4 linked regions of the Homo sapiens genome follow. The protein of the gene in region 2 interacts with the protein of the main gene of each other region in a pairwise test. Each region holds a gene or a part of one and is shown on either strand. Other genes may lie near its edges.

Region 1 (4,771 bases), on a different chromosome or scaffold from region 2:
AAAAATAAACCAAAAATTTTAAAAATGAACTTTTCTATGACTCCCATTGTATTCATCATTGTACTGAACATACTGACCCTTTCACTTGACTTTATTTAATGTATTTATTTTTCTCATTCTCTTACATAACATCTCTAATTTCTTTTCTTTCAGTTTCAACATCAGTTACTAAGGCTGGCACTTTCTATTAATAATAAAAATGGTCACGATTCTTGAATATCCAATTCCTGCCAGATACTATGCTAGATAATCTACACATATTAACTCTAATCTTCACAATAATCATGCATTTTACAGAGGAGGAAACTGAGGCTCAAAGGGATTAAGTACCTTGTCCTCCAGTCTTTCTCCCTCCAATCGGTCTTCTACCCTTCAGCCAAAGTGATCTTCCTACAACCAAATCTAATCATGTTATTTCCCTCACCTAAAGCTCTTTAAGGCTTCCTACTGTCTTAATGTCTAGATTCCTTAACTAGGCCTAAGGTAACCTTCAGGATACCTCTTTTCTTACCACTCCTGACACCAACTTCTTTCAGTTCTTGGACCATGCCATGCTTTCTCCTTTTGCCTCTGGACTTGGCATGGAGTGCCCTTATTCATCCACTCAACAAACATGTGGCATGTGCCAACTATGTGCCTGGCATTGTACTAGCAGCTGGGCACATGGTAGAGAATGAAACAGACATAGGTCCTGCCCTCAAGGTACTTATGATCTAATGGAAAAAACAAATAATAAATAATTACAGATTGTAGTAAGTAAAATGACAGAAGCAGGATGCTGTATTCCAGAACATCTAGGGTTGGGGGGTGCAAGAGAAATCACAGTGACTGTTTTAAATAGTTTGATCTGGTAAGGTCTCAGGTGGTGACATACTTTAAAAGCTAAAGATTAAGCCAGCTATGTGAAAAGCCAAAGGGGAGGTGAGTGACAAGAGATCCTGCTAAAGACATCAGCAGAGCCCAGACCAAGGATTATTACAGGCCACGGTTAAGAATCTGGGTTTTATTCTAACTTCTAAGGGCAATGTAATTCGCTGAAGAATTTTACATAAGGAAGAGTCACTTTTTGCTGCAGAGTGGAGAAGGGATTAGAGGGGCACAGAATAGAAAACAGAGACACAAGTCAGTCAGGAAGATACAGTAGTAGTTGAGGTGAGAAAATGTGGATGATTTGAAGTACGGTCTGATAGTGAAAGGAAAAAAGTAGACAGATTAGATGCAGAATTGACCTGACTTGCAAAGTCATTACCTGAAATTAAGAAAGAGGCAGAGAGAGGTTATAGAGTTTGGGAATTTGTCATTGGAGAACGTTAGCAGGCTCACTAGAGAAACAGAGGATCAGAGGGATCTCAAGCCCATACTGACTGAATATTCAAGAGTTTGGCCATTTTCACTTTATACGGTCATCAGTTTGTGCAGGACTTTTTCCAGCAAAGTTCAGGCCCACGGGTGCAGGTACAAAGAGGGCAAAAGGTTGACTTCATCCAGAGTAAGAGTTTTGTCAGAAAAAAGTGCAGGAAGGGACAAGAGAATTTTTCAAAGGAACGACATACATTCTGGATAAGGGGGTGCAGTGGATAGAAAATGGAAAGATCAATGCAATGGAGGTATAGATGAAGGTCAAGAATTGTCTCCCTGGTAGAAAGTGGTCAGATAGTAGGAGGCTATAATTTGTTTCTTCTGCTTGGAATGGGCATCTCCCCCTTCAGCAAACTGTTTGACCCCTAAATACATCCATCCTTTTCTGCTCCCTGACTTCCTGAACCCCAGCACCACTCCCTGAGTTTGTCACCATCTCATCCAATCAGAAAGGCCCACCTCAGCGGATCACAAGGTCAAGAGAGCGAGACCATCCTGGCCAACATGGTGAAACCCCGTCTCTACTAAAAATACAAAAATTAGCTGGGCGTGGTGGCACGCTTGTAGTCCCAGCTGCTTGGGACGCTGAGGCAGAAGAATTGCTTGAACCTGGGAGGTGGAGGTTGCAGTGAGCCAAAATCGCGCCACTGCACTCCAGCCTGGTGACAGAGCGAGACTCCGTCTCAAAAAAAGAAAAAAAAAAAAAGAGAGAAAAGAAAAAGAAAGGCCGACCTCAAACTATTCGCTCCTTGAAGCATTTATGTTCTCCCCACTGAGATCCCTCCTCCTAACAACCCTCACAGAGTGTACTACTGGTAGAATAGTTCAGGTGACCACATAGTAAGTCATTCTTTTTCCTTTCTAGGCTCCTTTGGAAAAGGTATTGTTATAAATATTCAAAAGTCTCTGGATCCTGCGACAGTATTCAGAACACAGCCCTGCACGGTGCAATCATTCAATAAATAATAACAGGGATCTCAGGCTCATGGGCCTCCAAACCTCATCCCCACTTGCTAAACCAGGGTTCACTGAAATAGAATAAAAGCGCATAATCCCTGTTCACAAAAGTCTCAGATAACTTCCATTAATCTCAAAGGTTGCCTTCAATTTCACAAATTTAATTTTAATCCCCTCTAAACGTTCAAAACACCTCTATTTAGCTAATGATGGGCAAATATAAAACAAAACAAAACAAAAATAACACCCCATGCGTGAAACAGCACTCGTAGGCTACCCTACGACGATCAAAAATCTGGATGCCACAATTCGAGAAATGCCACGCTCACTAGAAAATATAGATTTTTCTTCATAGTCTAATGCAAGGCCAGAGAGACCTGGGTTGGGGCTAAGGCAAACGGCCCCACGAGGGGTGCCACGAGAGTCAACTGGCATTGGGTTTGTACTCAGGGTCGGACCTCAGCCTGGCACCTACCTTCCTCCCCTCCAGCCCCAGCCGCAACGATCACAGGAGTGGTCGCCTCGGAGCCTGCTGCCATGGCTACCGCAAGGCGGGTTCTGCCGGAACCCAAGGCGGAGCGGAGCTGGGGTGGGGTCAGAGTAGGGGCCAAACTCCGAGACCCGAAGCTGCACCACAGGAAGGAGCCCCGGCGACTCCCGCCCGGCTCCTACGGAAACGCCGGCTCTCACGTGGAGGTCACGTGACGGATGCTGGGCGGGACCACGCAGCTTTGTTTTGATACCCCGGGTGTGGAAATACAAACACGTGGTCTGAGTTGTGGCGCTTTTTACCTAACCCGGACCTTAGCGTTCTTTATTGTAGTCTTAGCTTCGTTTCTGTTTCTCCTTTTCTAGTCAGATCCTTCCTTTCCACCTCGGCTTTTCTCCACCCTAAAGGATTGGAGTTTTAGGGGAAGGTTTGCCGCTTAGTGGGGCTCCGGCGGTGGGATGGGTCTCTGCCGTGAGCTTTCGCGAGCCGCTCTTGGCAGCCTGGAATGCGAGGCTAGCTCACGCTTCTCTTACACCTCTCTTGCCCTTCTGGTGGTAACCTGACTCCTTCTGATTTTAGTGGCTGCCGGGAAATACGAACCTCGGGCAAAGAATCCTGTGATTGCGTTCCCTGTGACTCATTTCCCGATCCAGACAAGCCAAATTGCTTGACTTTAGGTTTTCAAGGACACTAATCCACAGCTGTCAGGCTTCTGAATTTGTATACCAAAATAAACAAACAGCTGTGTGAAGAGATCAACAACCACCTTTCTTCTCGTTTACCCTGTGGTCAAATCATAATCACTGGAGATGGATCTTTGGGGCAAAAATCTTCCAACTTTACTGGACATACCTTTATTGCTCGCCTATTGGCAGGCGAAATGGGTAAAGTTTACATATATATGAATGAAATTGGCTAGTTTGGAATCTCCTCTTTGGATATGTAAGACAAAAAAGTAACAAAAATAGGTAGTACTTATTGCACGTAAGAAATGATTTTTATGAGATAATCCCCTGGGACCAACTACGCTTAAACTTTATCCTTCGCCTATAATTTCTGAAGTTACTAACTCAACAAAAATGAGAATAAGCCCAAAATAGAAGCAAGCATCAGGTTAACTGACGTCACTTAACAGGTCACTGAGTTGTTTATTAGGCACAAGATTTAACTTGGACACTTCCTCCAAACACCCCAGGGTTCCTTGCCCAACCTCCTCGAATACAGCCTCTCTGGGAGTTTCCCTCTCCCCGACTCAGCCGCGCTGGTCCCTGCCTTTTCAGCGCTACCTGCCCTCCGTCTGGGACCTGGCTCCTTTCCTCTCGCCGGTGTTTCCTCGCCACCCGCGGAGGGGAGGGCGGACCCCAGCCTCCTTGCCGCCTGCCCCGCCTCCCCGCCTCCCCGCCGGCCCGGCTCGGGCCGCGCAGGCGCACCAGGCGCGGTCCGGAGGCCGAGGGCGACCACAGCAGCCTCCGCCTCCTGCTGCTCAGGACTATTCTGCGCTGGGCTAGTCGGCGGTGACCCGGACTGCGCCCGGCAGTGGCTTCGCGGGCGACGCGTCGCCATGGGCTCTCGCTGGAGCAGCGAAGAGGAGAGGCAGCCGCTGCTGGGGCCCGGGCTCGGGCCTGGGCTGGGGGCCTCCTGGAGAAGCCGGGAGGCGGCGGCGGCGGCGCTGCCCGCGGCGGTCCCGGGTCCCGGGCGGGTATACGGGCGCCGCTGGCTGGTGCTGCTGCTCTTCTCGCTGCTGGCGTTCGTTCAGGGCCTGGTCTGGAACACCTGGGGTCCCATCCAGAACTCGGCGCGCCAGGCCTACGGCTTCTCCAGCTGGGACATCGCGCTGCTCGTGCTGTGGGGGCCCATCGGCTTCCTGCCCTGCTTCGCGTTCATGTGGCTCCTGGACAAGAGAGGTGAGGGGTCGCGGAGCGCCAGCCCGCGCTGTCTCTCCTCCGGGAGCAGGCGCCTGCCCGC
Region 2 (4,189 bases):
TGGGTAGCCTCACCTGGCTGCTGGCAAACCTCAGAGGCCAGGGGCCCTAGAGGATCAAGTTTCAAAGGGGTTGCAGGAGACAGGCCCTGAGACCCATTCATCAGCTGTGTGTTCTGAATCTGCATCTCCTCAGCCTCAAACTCCATGAACCTGCAGAGGGTGAGAAAGGCATAGGCAATGCTGAGAAGGAGACCAGACCCATCAGAAATCCAGACGACAGCCAAGCATGGCCAAGAAAGGAAGTGCTCTCAGGTGGGCAAAGTCTGCCTAAGTCATGTCACCCAGGAGGGTGGTCACAGGTGGCTTAATCGTATTTCCAGGGAAACTTCAGGAGCTCAGCACATAGTTCCTTCCCCTATAGTCATAACTTAGGAAGCTTAAGAAAATGAATGGCCAGGTGGGGTGGCTCATGCCTATAAACCCAACACTTTGGGAGGCTGAGGTGGGCAGATTGCTTGAGCCCAAGAGTTTGAGACCAACCTGGGTAACACGGCAAAAACCCATCTCTACAAAAGATACCAAAAAAATTAGCCAAGAGTGATGACGCGCGTCTAGTCACAGCTATTGTGGGGCTGAGGTGGGAGGATCGCTTGAGCTCAAGAGGTGAAGGCTGCAGTGAGCCATGACAGTGCCACTGCACTCCAGCCTGGGCAACAGAGTGAGATCCTGCCTCAAGAAAATTTTTAAAAAGTAAAGAATGAGGCCAGGCGCAGTGGCTCACGCCTGTAACCCCAGCACTTTGGGAGGCTGAGGCGGGCGGATCATGAGGTCAGGAGTTCGAGACCAGCCTGGCCAACATAGTGAAACCCCGTCTCTACTAAAAATGCACAAAATTAGCCTGATGTGGTGGTGGGTGCCTGTAATCCCAGCTACTCGGGAGGCTTAGGCAGGAGAATCACTTGAACCCAGGAGGCAGAGGTTGCAGTGAGCCGAGATCGTGCCATTGCACTCCAGCCCAGGCAACAGTGTGAGACTTTGTCTCAAAAAAAAAAAAAAAAAAAAAAAAAAGTTAAGAATGATCTAGAGCTTGTAAACTTCTCTTGGACACAGTGAGGGCTTTCAGTACTTGTTTTTGTTTTTGAGACAGAGTCTCACTCTGTCGCCCAGGATGAAGTGCAGTGGCCCAATCTCGGCTCACTGCAACCTCTGCCTCCCGGGTTCAAGTGATTCTCCTGCCTCAGTCTCCTGAGTAGCTGGGACTACAGGTGCGTGCCACCACGCCTGGCTTTTTTTTTTTTTTTTTGTATTTTTAGTAGAGACGGGGTTTCACCGTGTTAGCCAGAATGGTCTCAATCTCCTGACTTCATGATCCGCCCGCCTCACCCTCCCAAAATGCTGGGATTACAGGTGTGAGCCAATGTGCCCGGCCTCACTTGTTTTCCGTACCTATCTCACCCAGCTTCATGGATTGTACACAGCAGTGCTCAATATAGGCTTGTTTAACTTAATCAGGCCTATGCAACAGCCTGGTGGGATCTCACAGTGGGATCCTCCTCAAGACCTCATTTGCCCCTGCCTACAACCACAAAGAATTCAAGGCAGTTCCTACCAGGAAACAATGTGAGATCCCAGAGTCCTGAGACTGGGATGGGATTCTTGGAAAGGTAAGTCTAGGAAGCATGGGTCCAAAAGGTTTTGGGAGGGAGTAAGTGGAAGCTAAGCTTGGAAGAATCTGTTCATTTTTCTGAGTTTTTTCTTTCTTTCTTTCTTTTTTTGAGACAGAGTTTCGCTCTTGTTGCCGAGGCTGGAGTGCAATGGCACAATCTCGGCTCACCGCAACCTCTGCCTCCTGGGTTCAAGCGATTCTCCTGCCTCAGCCTCCTGAGTAGCTGGGATTACAGGCATGCGCCACCATGCCTGGCTAATTTTGTATTTTTAGTAGAGATGGGGGTTTCTCCATGTTAGTCAGGCTGGTCTCGAACTCCCGACCTCAGGTGATCTGCCTGCCTCGGCCTCCCAAAGTGCTGGGATTACAGGCGGAGCCACCACGCCTAGCCTTTTTTTTTTTTTTTTAATCAAAGATATTATAGAGAAATAGAAGAAGAGCCAGGAGACAACTTTGGGCATCCAGGACACTGGCTTTCCCCGGCTCTTCCAGAACCAGCCCCCTCCCTGGGATAAAGGCGGAAAGGGATTTTCTGTGCCACTATTTCCAATGGAGGAGTGGTCCTGAAGTTCTGTATCAATAGCCACTTGCTACCAAGTCAATGAGAAGAGAAAAGAACCTGCCTGGTAGAGCACACCTCCTCATTGCTAGGTCCCTTCAGCATGAAATTTCTATATCTATCGGGGTCCAATCTCCAATCCCATCCTAAGACCTACAATATCAAGGCTCCTATACAGATTCAGGATCTGGTGAGGGGGGAGCTTTCAAGAGGAAACAGGATAGAAAAACCCAAGAGTCAAGGTGGTGGAAGAAGAAGCAAGGATCCAGGAAACTGCCATCCTAGTCTACACCCCTCCTCCCGTCCCTTTTTTTCTTTTCTTTTCTTTTTTTTTTTTTTGTGATGAGGTCTTGCTATGTTGTCCAGGCTGGTCTTGAACTACTGAACCCAAACCATCCTCCCACCTTAGCCTCTAGAGTAGCTGGGACTACAAGCACACACCCAGCCTAACATCCCTTTTTTTTTTTTTTTTTTTTTTTTTTTTTTTTTTTTTGAGATGGAGTCTTGCTCTGTCACCCATGCTGGAGTGCAGAGGCATGATCTTGGCTCACAGCAACCTCCACCTCCCAGGTTCAAACGATTCTCCTGCCTCAGCCTCCTGAGTAGCTGGGACTACAGGCACATGCCACCATGCCCGGCTAATTTTTGTATTTTTTTTTTTTTTAGTAGAGACAGGGTTTCGCCATGTTGGCCAGGCTGTTCTCGAACTCCTGACCTCAGGTGATCCACCGGCCTTGGCCTCCCAAAGTGGTGGGATTACAGGCGTGAGCCGCTGCGCCCCATCCTAACATGGCTTTTGATAATCACCCCCACACAAGTCTCTCTGCGGCCCTTACTGCTCTCAGCCACACAGCCTCCCTCAGGAGAATGAAGGTTCATCGAACTCACCTTTCTGCCATCTCATAAAAGATCATCCGGTCAAAGTTGCTGGTGTGCTCCCACTCCTGCACAGCCAATGGCAGTCCCTCCTCCAGGGTCATAGTGGGCTTCAGCCGGGCCAGGGAACGAAGCACTGGGCTAAAACCCCCATTGAGTCAGTCACATTCTAAAAGTGTGCTCCCATCCACCTGCCCTGACACCTACATCAATAACACATCCCCTGCCCCTCATCAAATCTATTGTGCCCCTTAGGGCCTGTCGTGTCCCACTTCTGATTAGACTTACAGACGCTCAACCTCCCATCCATTCATCTACCATACTCGCCCCTCTTCCTGTTGAACTTTACAACTAATATAAAATCAAACAGACAATTCTTCTCCCCACCTTTTAAAATCAATGGCAACTACCACCCCTAATTATCACAGTGCCATCCTCAATTAATTATTAGAAAGGGAGGACTCGCGTTATTAAATGAATGGGATTTGCTATAAAGTATGTTTAACCTTGTCCAAAGGCTCTTGCATTTTTTCTTTAAAGGCATTTGCTAACCCAAAGGAATCTCTAATTAAAGGTCATGTGGTGTTTTTATTTATTGGTTTTTCAGTCTTTGTTTCCAGATATTCCCCACAGACAGTTAAATGCCAGTACTAGACCCCCACTTCTAGAGGGCTCTTGAGCCCTTCCTAATCCAGAAGAAATCAAGAGCCCAGCCTAAAGCAAGGGCTTCATTTTTGTCTCTCTGACTCCCTTGGAGTCCTCAGACATTATTGGGCATCAGAATCGCTTGGGGAAGCTCGTTATAATCAACTTGCAGCTCCCCAGGATCCCACAACTGAGCATTTTAGGAGCTTCCCATGTTGCAGTGGTCTGGACTGCCTCTTGTGGAAGACCCTGCCCAGAGCCCCTGAGTGTGAAGCACAAGCAGACCAGGACCCAAAGCAAATGGATCCCATGCAAACCTTGAGAGCCCACATTGGTTCAAGATTTTGAAATTTAGCCTGCTAGGCTCCAAGAGCGAACTCAGATCTGCCTTGAGAAAGCAGGGAGCCTGAAGACGCTGTACATCTAGGACTTTGGGGGAACATCTTGATTCATTTGCTCCAAGTTCGGGGTAGAGGGATTCCTTTAGGAGTTCAGCCACTGGA
Region 3 (4,747 bases), on a different chromosome or scaffold from region 2:
ACAGATAGCAGGCCCCATCTGTCATGATAGCAGGCAAAGGTGTCTTTTATGGTGAAAATCTACATTCTGTAGAAAATCCCCTTCCCTTTCCAGGTCTTTTTCCTGATCCAGGGGAGAACTAACTAAGAGTCTGATACCTTTCTAAATCTGATAATAAACACTGGCCAGCCTTGGTGGCTCACACGTGTAATCCTAGCACTTTGGGAGGCAGAGATGGGAGGATCACTTGAGCCCAGGAGTTCAATACCAGCCTGGGCAACATGACAAAACACCATCTCTACAAAAAATACAAAAATAAGCCAGGCATAGTGGAATGAACCAGTAGTCTCAGCTACTTAGGAGGCTGAGGTGGGAGGATAACTTGAGCCTGGGAGGTCAAGGCTGCAGTAAGCCGTGATCCAGCTACTGCACTCCAGACTGGGTGACAGAGGGAGACCCTGTCTCAAAACAAAAAAAAAAATAAAGAAACATTTACAATCTATGCTCTCTGGAGCCTGCTACCTGTAGCCTTCTCTGCATAATAAAAACCTTGATTTCCACAATTCCTTGTGTGTGTGTGTGTGTGTGTGTGTGTGTGTGTGTGCGTGCATATCTTAGTAACAATTCCTTAACTTAACCCAGACATTCCCTTCTGTGGGTTCCAGGTCTTTAAACTCTTTCAACCAATTGTCAATCAGGACATCTTTGAATCCACCTACATCCTGGAACTTGCCACCCCCACCCCCACTTTCGGGACCAAGCCAATGTATATTTTACATGTATTGATTGATGTCTTACGTCTCCCTAAAATGTATAAAATCAAGTGGTGTCCCGACTATTTTGGACACACATTCTTAGGACCTTCTAAGGCTGTGTCACGGGCATGTCCTTAACATTGGCAAAATAAACTCCTAAATTGATTGAGACCTGTCTCAGATACTTTTTGGTTTGCAATTTATTTATTTGAGACAGGGTCTTGCTAGGTCGCCCAGGCTGGGGTACAGTGGCAGAATCATGGCTTATTGCAGCCTCAACCTCCTGGGCTCAAGGGATCCTCCCACCTCAGCCTCCTGAGTAGCTGTGACTACAGGCACCCACCACTAGGCTGGGTAATTTTTTTCTTCTGTAGATACGGAGTCTCCCTGCGTTGCCCAGGCTGATCTAGAACTCTTGGGCTCAAGCCTCCCGCACTCCTGAGCTCAAGCCGCGGCCTCCCGAAGTGCTGGGATTACAGATGTGAGCCACTGCGCCTGGCCAGGTACTATATTTTAAACAAAAAGGATCTAGATAATGACAAGGACAGCACAAATTCCTATAATGAATGCAAAAGTGTCTTGATATCACAATGTCTAGCACAGAGTTATTGGAGGCTATCCTGCCTAGCGCGTTACAATTTACAAAGCTGCCTCTCTGAAGCTGGATTTAGGATCTGCCTTAAACTCCGCGGCGGGGCCCTTGACAGCAGTGGGGACTGGAGCAAGATCAGAGCCGCTCGCGTTGATGGTCACTGTTGCTTCGGGCGCAGGTTTGGTTTTCTTTGGGGTTGCCATTTCAACTAGACGGCCTCTGGGTAGGCCAGATCTGGATCCTCTGTCTTTATCTGCGTTGCAGAGGTGGGACCACCCCTCTTTCACATAGTCAGCCCGGGTTCGCAAACACTCGGCCCCGCACAAAGATGGCGTGGAGCCGGGCTGGGCCAATGCGGAGTGGCGTTGCTCCCGGTTGCCTAGGTAACAGCCAATGGGCAGCGGGAATTGTACCCAGTGCGGTCGCCCAGGATGGCGGCGTCAAGTGGGGCAATCGCTGGTGGAGGTGGCGGAGAGCAAGGTGGCAGCCGGGAGCCCATCAGAGGAAAAGTCCGAGGCGCTGGAACCCTGCGTCCAGGCGTGACGGTCATCCCGAAAGGCCGGCCCCAGGTTGGCTGGAGGCGCAGGAGGGAGGGGGCCGGGAAAGAGTGTGATCGGTCAGGTGGGCACTGAGGAACGGAGCACGAGATGACCCGGCTCGGGGGCGCGGCTCCACCTCGGATACGCTGACCTGAGGGCGGTTGCCTGTGGGGGACCCAAACCTGAACCCTTTAGTCTCCACCGCGGGGGTCGAGGCCCGGGAGAGCTGACTGGACTGGGGTTAGCGAGCAGAGGGTGGAGGGTTGCATCAGGGGAATTGGCAGACCTGTGTGAGCGTTAGACCCTGCCGGGCGGGAGAGCGGGCCCGGATAGCAGGAAGGAACGCGCCTGGAAGGTGAAAATGGGGTGCGAGAAGGTGTTGCCTTGTTGTGGTCTAGGGCTTTGTTTTCCCTGAGCCCGCCTTTATCTCACTGGTGGAGAGAACTCCCACATATGGAAGCCTGGGGAATGGGATGCTTCATTTAGTTGATGGGTGGTATCCCTGCATTCTAGCATCTCTGAACTGCTTAGGTACCAGCAGGAATAACTGCTATATCGGAGTCCAGCCCTGGCATTCCCTTTCCCGTGAAATAGGATAGTATTCTGGCAGTATTACTCCCTAGTCCCAATCACCCCCAGGTCATCATCGCCTTTAAATAAAAAAAAAAAAAAATCTTTTTGGCGCCAGTATTTTCTTCCCACTTTCTTCAATCTAACCATCCCACAGTCTTCCCTAAACGAACCCTTCATATAGCAACGATACATTTCTTTACTTTTCACATGAGGAAAGAGGAGGTTAGACTTATAATGAAAAACAGTTATTTCGAGCTCCTTTTAAAACACTTAAAAAAAAATATTTAGGCCGGGCGCGGTGGCTCACGCCTGTAATCCCAACACTTTGGGAGGCCGAGGCGGGTGGATCACGAAGTCAGGAGTTCAAAACTAGCTTGGCCAAGATGGTGAAACCTCGTCTCTACTAAAAATACAAAAATTAGCCAAGCATGGTGGCACGTGCCTGTAATCCCAACTACCCAGGAGGCTGAGGCAGGAGAATTGCTTGAACCTGGGAGGCGGCGGTTGCAGTGAGCCAAGATCCTGCCACTGCACTCCAGCATGGGGGACAGAGCAAGACTCCGTCTCAAAAAAAAAAAAAAAAAAAAAAAAGGGGAGTATTATTTGACTTTTTGTTCTAGGTTCCTAACAAGGCTAATCTTTGTTCATCAAAGCCTTCATTTTCTTCTCTTTAGGATTCTAAAAGCTTATGAACTGCTTTCTTTATTACTGAAATAATTTGACAAGACTATTGTACCCTGGGAAGGGTGGTTCTGGGGGGACATGTGGGTAGTTAGGGTGGCTGCCTCCACCCAGTATTCTCTAACTGGATCTCCCCCACCGCCCCAACCTTTTGTTTTGTTTTGCTTTTCTTTTCTTTTTTTTGAGACAAGGTCTGGCTCTGTTGCCCAGGCTGGAGTACAGGTGTGGTGCAGTCACTGCTCACCCCGGCAGCCTCAAATTGTGGGCTCAAGCAATCCTCCTACCTCAGCCTCCTGAGTAGCTGGGACTACAGGCATGCACCACCACACCCAGCAAATTTTTGTATTGTTTTGTAGAGATGAGGTCTCACTACGTTTCCCAGCTTGGTATTGAACTCCTGGGCTCAAGCGATCCTCTTGCTTCAGCCTCCCAACGTGCTGGGATTACAGGAGTGAGCCATCATGCCTGGCCCTTTTTCCTCTTTATGTCAGTTTTTTTTTTTTTAATCCTCTTAAATTGGACACAGTTTACTGTGAATACAAAAATGTTGTTTAATACGTTGATTTCTTAAAATTAGAAAACGATAAAAAGAACGGAAACAAAAATTCTCGTTATTGCCTCAGAGTTCTGTTTGGAAATAAGAAAATAATAATAATTAAAAAGAAATGTCTGGGACAAAAGAAAATGAAGATACCAGGAATATGGTATATAGTGCAGACTAATAGTGTGTTGGTTTACAGGGACAGAATAGTAATTTTCTTTTATGTAAATGTTTGGACTGATCCTTTGCAACCCATCTATCAGGAGTGCAGAAAGGGTGAGTGTCTGTTTAGAAGTGTGAATCATCTTGGTTTGTGACTGGATTCCATGGGTGTATCTGTAGCCTAAACTCCTGAGCCATATATTCTCTTTAAAAATATGATTTGGATAACTGATAGAAATACTGATTTGCATCCCTTATTAAAGTATTGGGCCAGACATGGTGGCTCCCACCTGTAATCCTAGCACTTTGGAAGGCTGAAGCAGGCAGATCACTTGATCCCAGGAGTTCAAGACCAGCATGGGCAACGTGGTAAAACCCTGTCTCTACCAAAAAATGCAAAAATTAGCTGGGTGTCGTGGCATGCTCCTGTAGTCCCAGCTACTCAGGAGGCTAAGGTGGGAGGATGGCTTGGGCCCAGGAGGCAGAGGTTGCAGTGGCTGAGATGACGCCACTGCACTCCAGCTTGGATGACAGAGCCAGACTGCCTCAAAAAAAAAAAAGTATTGGGCTTTCAGTCTTCATCGGCACTGACTATACTTTGTTAAACTAGGTTTGTCTCAATGACCATGGTTACTGGTGAAATTCCTTTTTAGGTCAGTAGCTGTAAAGCTATTCATTAGCATGGTTAATTATAAAAGTCATAAAATCCAGACACTGTCCCAAATAGTGACAATATCAACTATTTGGGCACATGTGACAGTTTCTAGCCAAATGTATTCAACCATGGCCTGAGACTCATGGATTCTACACACATTCCCTTTCATTAGCACTTCTGACTGTGGTCTTGGCAATGGACATCATTTTGGCAAGCATTTGCTGAAGGGAATTTGCTATATGTGCCTAAGTCAAAATGGAATGGAAGTTT
Region 4 (4,821 bases), on a different chromosome or scaffold from region 2:
GTCATACTGTCTAGAGGTTGACTCTTAGTTCTGTAAATAAAGACATCCATTTCAAACAGCCTTTATTGAGTGCTGTTTCTGGGCCAGCCGTGGGAGACCCAGCAGTGAATGAAATAGCCACGAGCCGTGGGCTAGATCGCCATCTGGTGGGCAGGACCGACAATCGACAAATAAAAGTGCCGGTTAATTACAAAAAAAAAAAAAAAAAAAAAAAAAAATCGTCCTGATGCGGTGACTCACCTGTAGCCCCAGCTACTCAGGAGGCTGAAGTGGGGGGATCATTTGAGGCCACGAGTTGGAGGCTACATTTAGCTGTGATCCCATCACTGCACCCCAGCCTGGGTGACAGAGCAAGACCCCATCTCAATAATAATAATAATAATAAATAAACCTAGAAAGAAGCAGATGTAGCCAGGCGCGGTGGCTCATGCCTATAATCCCAGCACTTTGGGAGGCTGAAGCGGGCAGATCACCTGAGGTCAGATGTTCAAAAACAGCCTGGCCAACATAGTGAAACCCCATCTCCACTAAAAAAAAATACAAAAAATTAGCCAGGTGTGGTGGTGCACACCTGTAATCCCAGCTACTCAGGAAGCTGAGGCAGGAGAATCACTTGAACCTGGGAGGCAGAGGTTGCAGTGAGCCAAGATCATGCCACTGCACTCCAGCCTAGGTGACAGGAGACTCAATTTCAAAAAAAGATGTGATCAAGAGTGAGTTGGGTTGGAGGCAGGGACTGCTCTGGATTAAATGGCCAAGAAAGGCCATGCTGAGGTGTAAACTGAGCCCTGAAGGAAAAGTATTCCAGGCAAAGTGCAAAACTCTGAGGCAAAAACCTCTTTGGAATGTATGAGGGAGGTTCAGGGAAGCAAGGAGGAGAGGAAAGAATCCAAGTCCCGAGGTACAGGAGAGGACAAGAAGTAGATCTTGCAGAGCTGCTAGTAAGCGGCATCCCACCTAACATTTTGAGGGCCAGAAGTAGCCACAGAGCCCCTCTCACGCAAGGGAGTAATGTCTATATGCTTTTTTTTTTTTTTTGAGACGGTCTCCCTTTGTTGTCCAGGCTGGAGTGCGGTGGTGCAATCTTGCCTCACTGCAAACTCCACCTCCTGTGCTCAAGCGATTCTCCTGCCTCAGTCTCCCATGTAGCTGGGACTACAGGTGTGTGCTACCACACCTGTCTAATTTTTGTACTTTTAGTAGAGACAGGGTTTCACCATGTTGCCCAGGCTGGTCTCAAACTCCTGACCTCAAGTGATCCGCCTGCCTCGGCCTCCCAAAGTGCTGAGATTACAGGTGTCAGCCACCGCGCCCGGCCTGATATACACTTTTAAGGCTCCGGGCTGTCCATGAGGATCAAGCGTGGAAGTAGGTCTACAGAAAAGGCTGCCGCAGTTCACCCATGACAGGTGATGACAGTCTGGACATAGGGAGGATGGAGAGAAGTCGTGCGCCCTGGCAGTATTTCAGGAGCCAACTAGTGGAGCCGGGACGCGAGAAATAGAGGAACCAAGAAGCCATAAGGAGGAGGAAGAGCAGCGGGTAGGTCAAGATGCCACAGCCGCAGGAGGGGCTGTTGGGGTCGGGGTTACCCCCATCCCTGTGCAGGCGGACTTGGCGTCTGAGGACAGAGTCCAGACCACAAGGATCTGGAGCTCAGGAGAGACTCGTGGGCCACAGCCCGAGAAAGCGCTGGGAATCCAAATACTATGGCGATTGGCAGTCGCGTAGGCGAGGCGGGCTAGAGACCCGCCCGGATTTAGGCGCGAGCCACCTCCAGGGGCGGGGCCCAGGCCGCACTGCGCAGGCGCGGCTAACCCGTTTCCATGGCTGCGAGAACTGACGCTCCCCAACCGTCCCGCAACTGTCCTGTCCCAGACTTTGGCACCGTCGGGGTCCGTCGTCCCCGAATGTGACAGCATCCCCACCCCGGCTGCTGCCCAGGATCCGCCGGACCCCGGCCTCGATATGGGAGACCTGGAACTGCTGCTGCCCGGGGAAGCTGAAGTGCTGGTGCGGGGTCTGCGCAGCTTCCCGCTACGCGAGATGGGCTCCGAAGGGTGAGGCACCCGGGTCAGGCGGAGTCCCGGAGTCATTGTCCTTGAGTCGGGGAGCTGGGGCCTGACTCGGGGGAGGGGCTGCCCAGTGTGGAGGGGCTCCCAAATGGGGGAGCAGAGCGTTCCGAGACAGGAGTATTACTGCTCCTGAGCCCCCTGTGTCCCCTCAGGATCAGGTTAGGCTTCAGTAGGATCCAGCCCCCATCCCCACTCCTAATGCACACACGTGGACGCACATGCACTTACCCTCTGAGGCAGGTGGAACCAGCAGCATGAGAACCTGGAGAAGCTGAACATGCAAGCCATCCTCGATGCCACAGTCAGCCAGGGCGAGCCCATTCAGGAGCTGCTGGTCACCCATGGGAAGGTACCCCGAGGTCACAGGCAGGGTTCCTGCCTTCCCCCATACCTCACCTACTCTACCCCTCCGGAGTCCCCTGTGTGCCCTTCCCCTCTGGCCTGGTACACCTGTTCTCCCTGAAGGACAAAGAGGAATGTGTTACATGTTTCATTTTGTATCCCTATTGGACAGGACTCTGGCACACCAGGCTGGGTGCAGGGCATGAGTTGATTAGGGAGAAAGCTGTAGGTCCTAGAACAGCTTAGGCTTCAAGGGGAAGGCCCAAATGCTAAAGGCATCTGTGAATTGACTGTAAGGCTGGTGGTGGGGAAGGGGTGGGGAGGGGTTGGGGAGGGCGGGAGGGAGGGGAGATAACCTAACTGGAGGTGGAACTTCGGCATGGAAGGAAGCAGCCTTCCCAACATGAAAGGGGGAAGTTAGAAACCAGGGAGATGCCTGGCTGGAACATGGACCAGGGAGTGTCACCAGCAGATGACCTGAGATATCAATTGACCAAAAAAAAAAAAAAAAAAGCCGGGCATGGTAGCTCATGCCTGTTATCCCAGCATTTTGGGAGGCCAAGACGGGTGGATCATCTGAGGTCAGGAGTTCAAGGCCAGCCTGGCCAACATGGTGAAACCCCACCTCTACTAAAAATACAAAAATTTGCAGAGCATGGTGGTGCACACCTGTAATCCCAGCTACTCGGGAGGCTGAGGCAGGAGAATCGCTTGAACCTGGGAGGCAGAGGTTACAGAGAGCCAAGATCATGCCACTGCACTCCAGCCTGGGTGACAAGAGTGAAACTCCGTCTCAAAAAAAAAAAAAAAAAAAAGAAAGGTCCTTTGCAAAAGAAAGATGGAACTCATACTAGGGGATAGGATAGGAACAGGGCACTGTGAAGGGTCCTGAGTAGGAGTGAGGCCAAGGCACACAAGAGCTTTGGAGGACCACAGACAGGGACTAGAGGGAGGGCATGAGGAGAAGGGCTGGCTTGAAAGGGATGCCTGAATGGGCGGGCAGAGGATAAGGGTGCAGGTGCAGGCAGGGCAAGGCAGTCTGGGAACTGGGCAGGAGCCAGTCACATAAGCATGAGGGACATCCACAGAGGTGTTGGGAGCAGCTGGTAATGAAGGTCCAAGGTGCAAGAGAGAAGTCAGGAAGGATACTCATGGGTCTGGAATAGTTTAGGGGCCCAGCAGTGTTTGGGGATATCAGGGTTGAGCTGAGCCGGGGATGGGAGGGTTGCCAGGCAAAGGTAGGCCCATCTCATCCCTGTCCTTTACCCTACCCTTCAAAGGTCCCAACACTGGTGGAGGAGCTGATCGCAGTGGAGATGTGGAAGCAGAAGGTGTTCCCTGTGTTCTGCAGGGTGGAGGACTTCAAGCCCCAGAACACCTTCCCCATCTACATGGTGGTGAGCTGGGCCCCTGGTTCATACCTCTTCTCACTCCTTCAGAGGGCTCTGGACCGGGGAGGAGAGCTGGTAGCCCCTATCCCTTCCTCAGGCCCTGTCCTTCTCTTTATCTGACAGGTGCACCACGAGGCCTCCATCATCAACCTCTTGGAGACAGTGTTCTTCCACAAGGTGAGGGACTATCTCTGCCCATGGGCCACAGTTCCGGGTCAGGGCCTGGCAGGAAGGGAGATTGTGTCTGTGTGGGGAAGGCATCAGACACAGAAAGTTTCCCTCCTCCTTTTCCCAGGAGGTGTGTGAGTCAGCAGAAGACACTGTCTTGGACTTGGTAGACTATTGCCACCGCAAACTGACCCTGCTGGTGGCCCAGAGTGGCTGTGGTGGCCCCCCTGAGGGGGAGGGATCCCAGGACAGCAACCCCATGCAGGTGGGTTGAGGTTACCTAGGGTTGTGAAAGCCTAGGTCTGGGTTCCCCAAGGCCTGCGCAGGTGAGGGTGGCCCAGCGTGAACACTGTGTGACCTCCCAGGAGCTGCAGAAGCAGGCAGAGCTGATGGAATTTGAGATTGCACTGAAGGCCCTCTCAGTACTACGCTACATCACAGACTGTGTGGACAGGTGAGCAGTCCGACTGGGCCTGGGCCTACTGTGGAGGGCTGGAAGACCGGGCCTGTAGCCTGCCTCTACTCACCTCCTTCACAACGTCCCTGCCCCTAGCCTCTCTCTCAGCACCTTGAGCCGTATGCTTAGCACACACAACCTGCCCTGCCTCCTGGTGGAACTGCTGGAGCATAGTCCCTGGAGCCGGCGGGAAGGAGGTAGGGTCCTCCCCCACCAGCCTAAGCCCCAGGCTACTGCTTCAGGGTATCTTTTTGATAGAGGGGGGCAGCTTGCACACACGAAGACAAACCCTGTCCCCAAGCCCACTGAGGATACCAGGATGCCTCAGCCAAGGTTGGCCTAGACCTGAGCTCTGCAGCAGGCCAGGCCCATGTGTCCACTACTGAGG

The links. Proteins that work in one complex are often made in the same cells at the same time.
Region 1: the proteins of NUTM1 (region 2) and HSPBAP1 interact in binary tests that used the Homo sapiens proteins (3 or more experiments, as listed by UniProt).
Region 3: the proteins of NUTM1 (region 2) and MORN4 interact in binary tests that used the Homo sapiens proteins (3 or more experiments, as listed by UniProt).
Region 4: the proteins of NUTM1 (region 2) and ZMYND10 interact in binary tests that used the Homo sapiens proteins (3 or more experiments, as listed by UniProt).

Annotation. Positions count from the first base shown.
Region 1 is NC_000003.12:122,790,826-122,795,596, forward strand, and holds the start of HSPBAP1 (HSPB1-associated protein 1), read right to left. Parts: upstream 3,007-4,771; 5' UTR 2,856-3,006; coding exon 2,792-2,855; exon of another isoform or gene 1-2,791. Other genes in the region: SLC49A4 (solute carrier family 49 member 4), read left to right, coding at 4,368-4,710. UniProt on the Homo sapiens protein: May play a role in cellular stress response.
Region 2 is NC_000015.10:34,349,697-34,353,885, reverse strand, and holds part of NUTM1 (NUT family member 1), read right to left. Parts: intron 3,183-4,189; coding exon 3,054-3,182; intron 151-3,053; coding exon 14-150; intron 1-13. UniProt on the Homo sapiens protein: Plays a role in the regulation of proliferation. Regulates TERT expression by modulating SP1 binding to TERT promoter binding sites.
Region 3 is NC_000010.11:97,630,495-97,635,241, reverse strand, and holds the start of MORN4 (MORN repeat-containing protein 4), read left to right. Parts: upstream 1-1,741; 5' UTR 1,742-1,895; intron 1,896-4,747. UniProt on the Homo sapiens protein: Plays a role in promoting axonal degeneration following neuronal injury by toxic insult or trauma.
Region 4 is NC_000003.12:50,342,727-50,347,547, reverse strand, and holds the start of ZMYND10 (zinc finger MYND domain-containing protein 10), read left to right. Parts: upstream 1-1,815; 5' UTR 1,816-1,968; coding exon 1,969-2,060; intron 2,061-2,315; coding exon 2,316-2,424; intron 2,425-3,697; coding exon 3,698-3,814; intron 3,815-3,931; coding exon 3,932-3,985; intron 3,986-4,103; coding exon 4,104-4,241; intron 4,242-4,341; coding exon 4,342-4,430; intron 4,431-4,529; coding exon 4,530-4,630; intron 4,631-4,821. UniProt on the Homo sapiens protein: Plays a role in axonemal structure organization and motility. Involved in axonemal pre-assembly of inner and outer dynein arms (IDA and ODA, respectively) for proper axoneme building for cilia motility.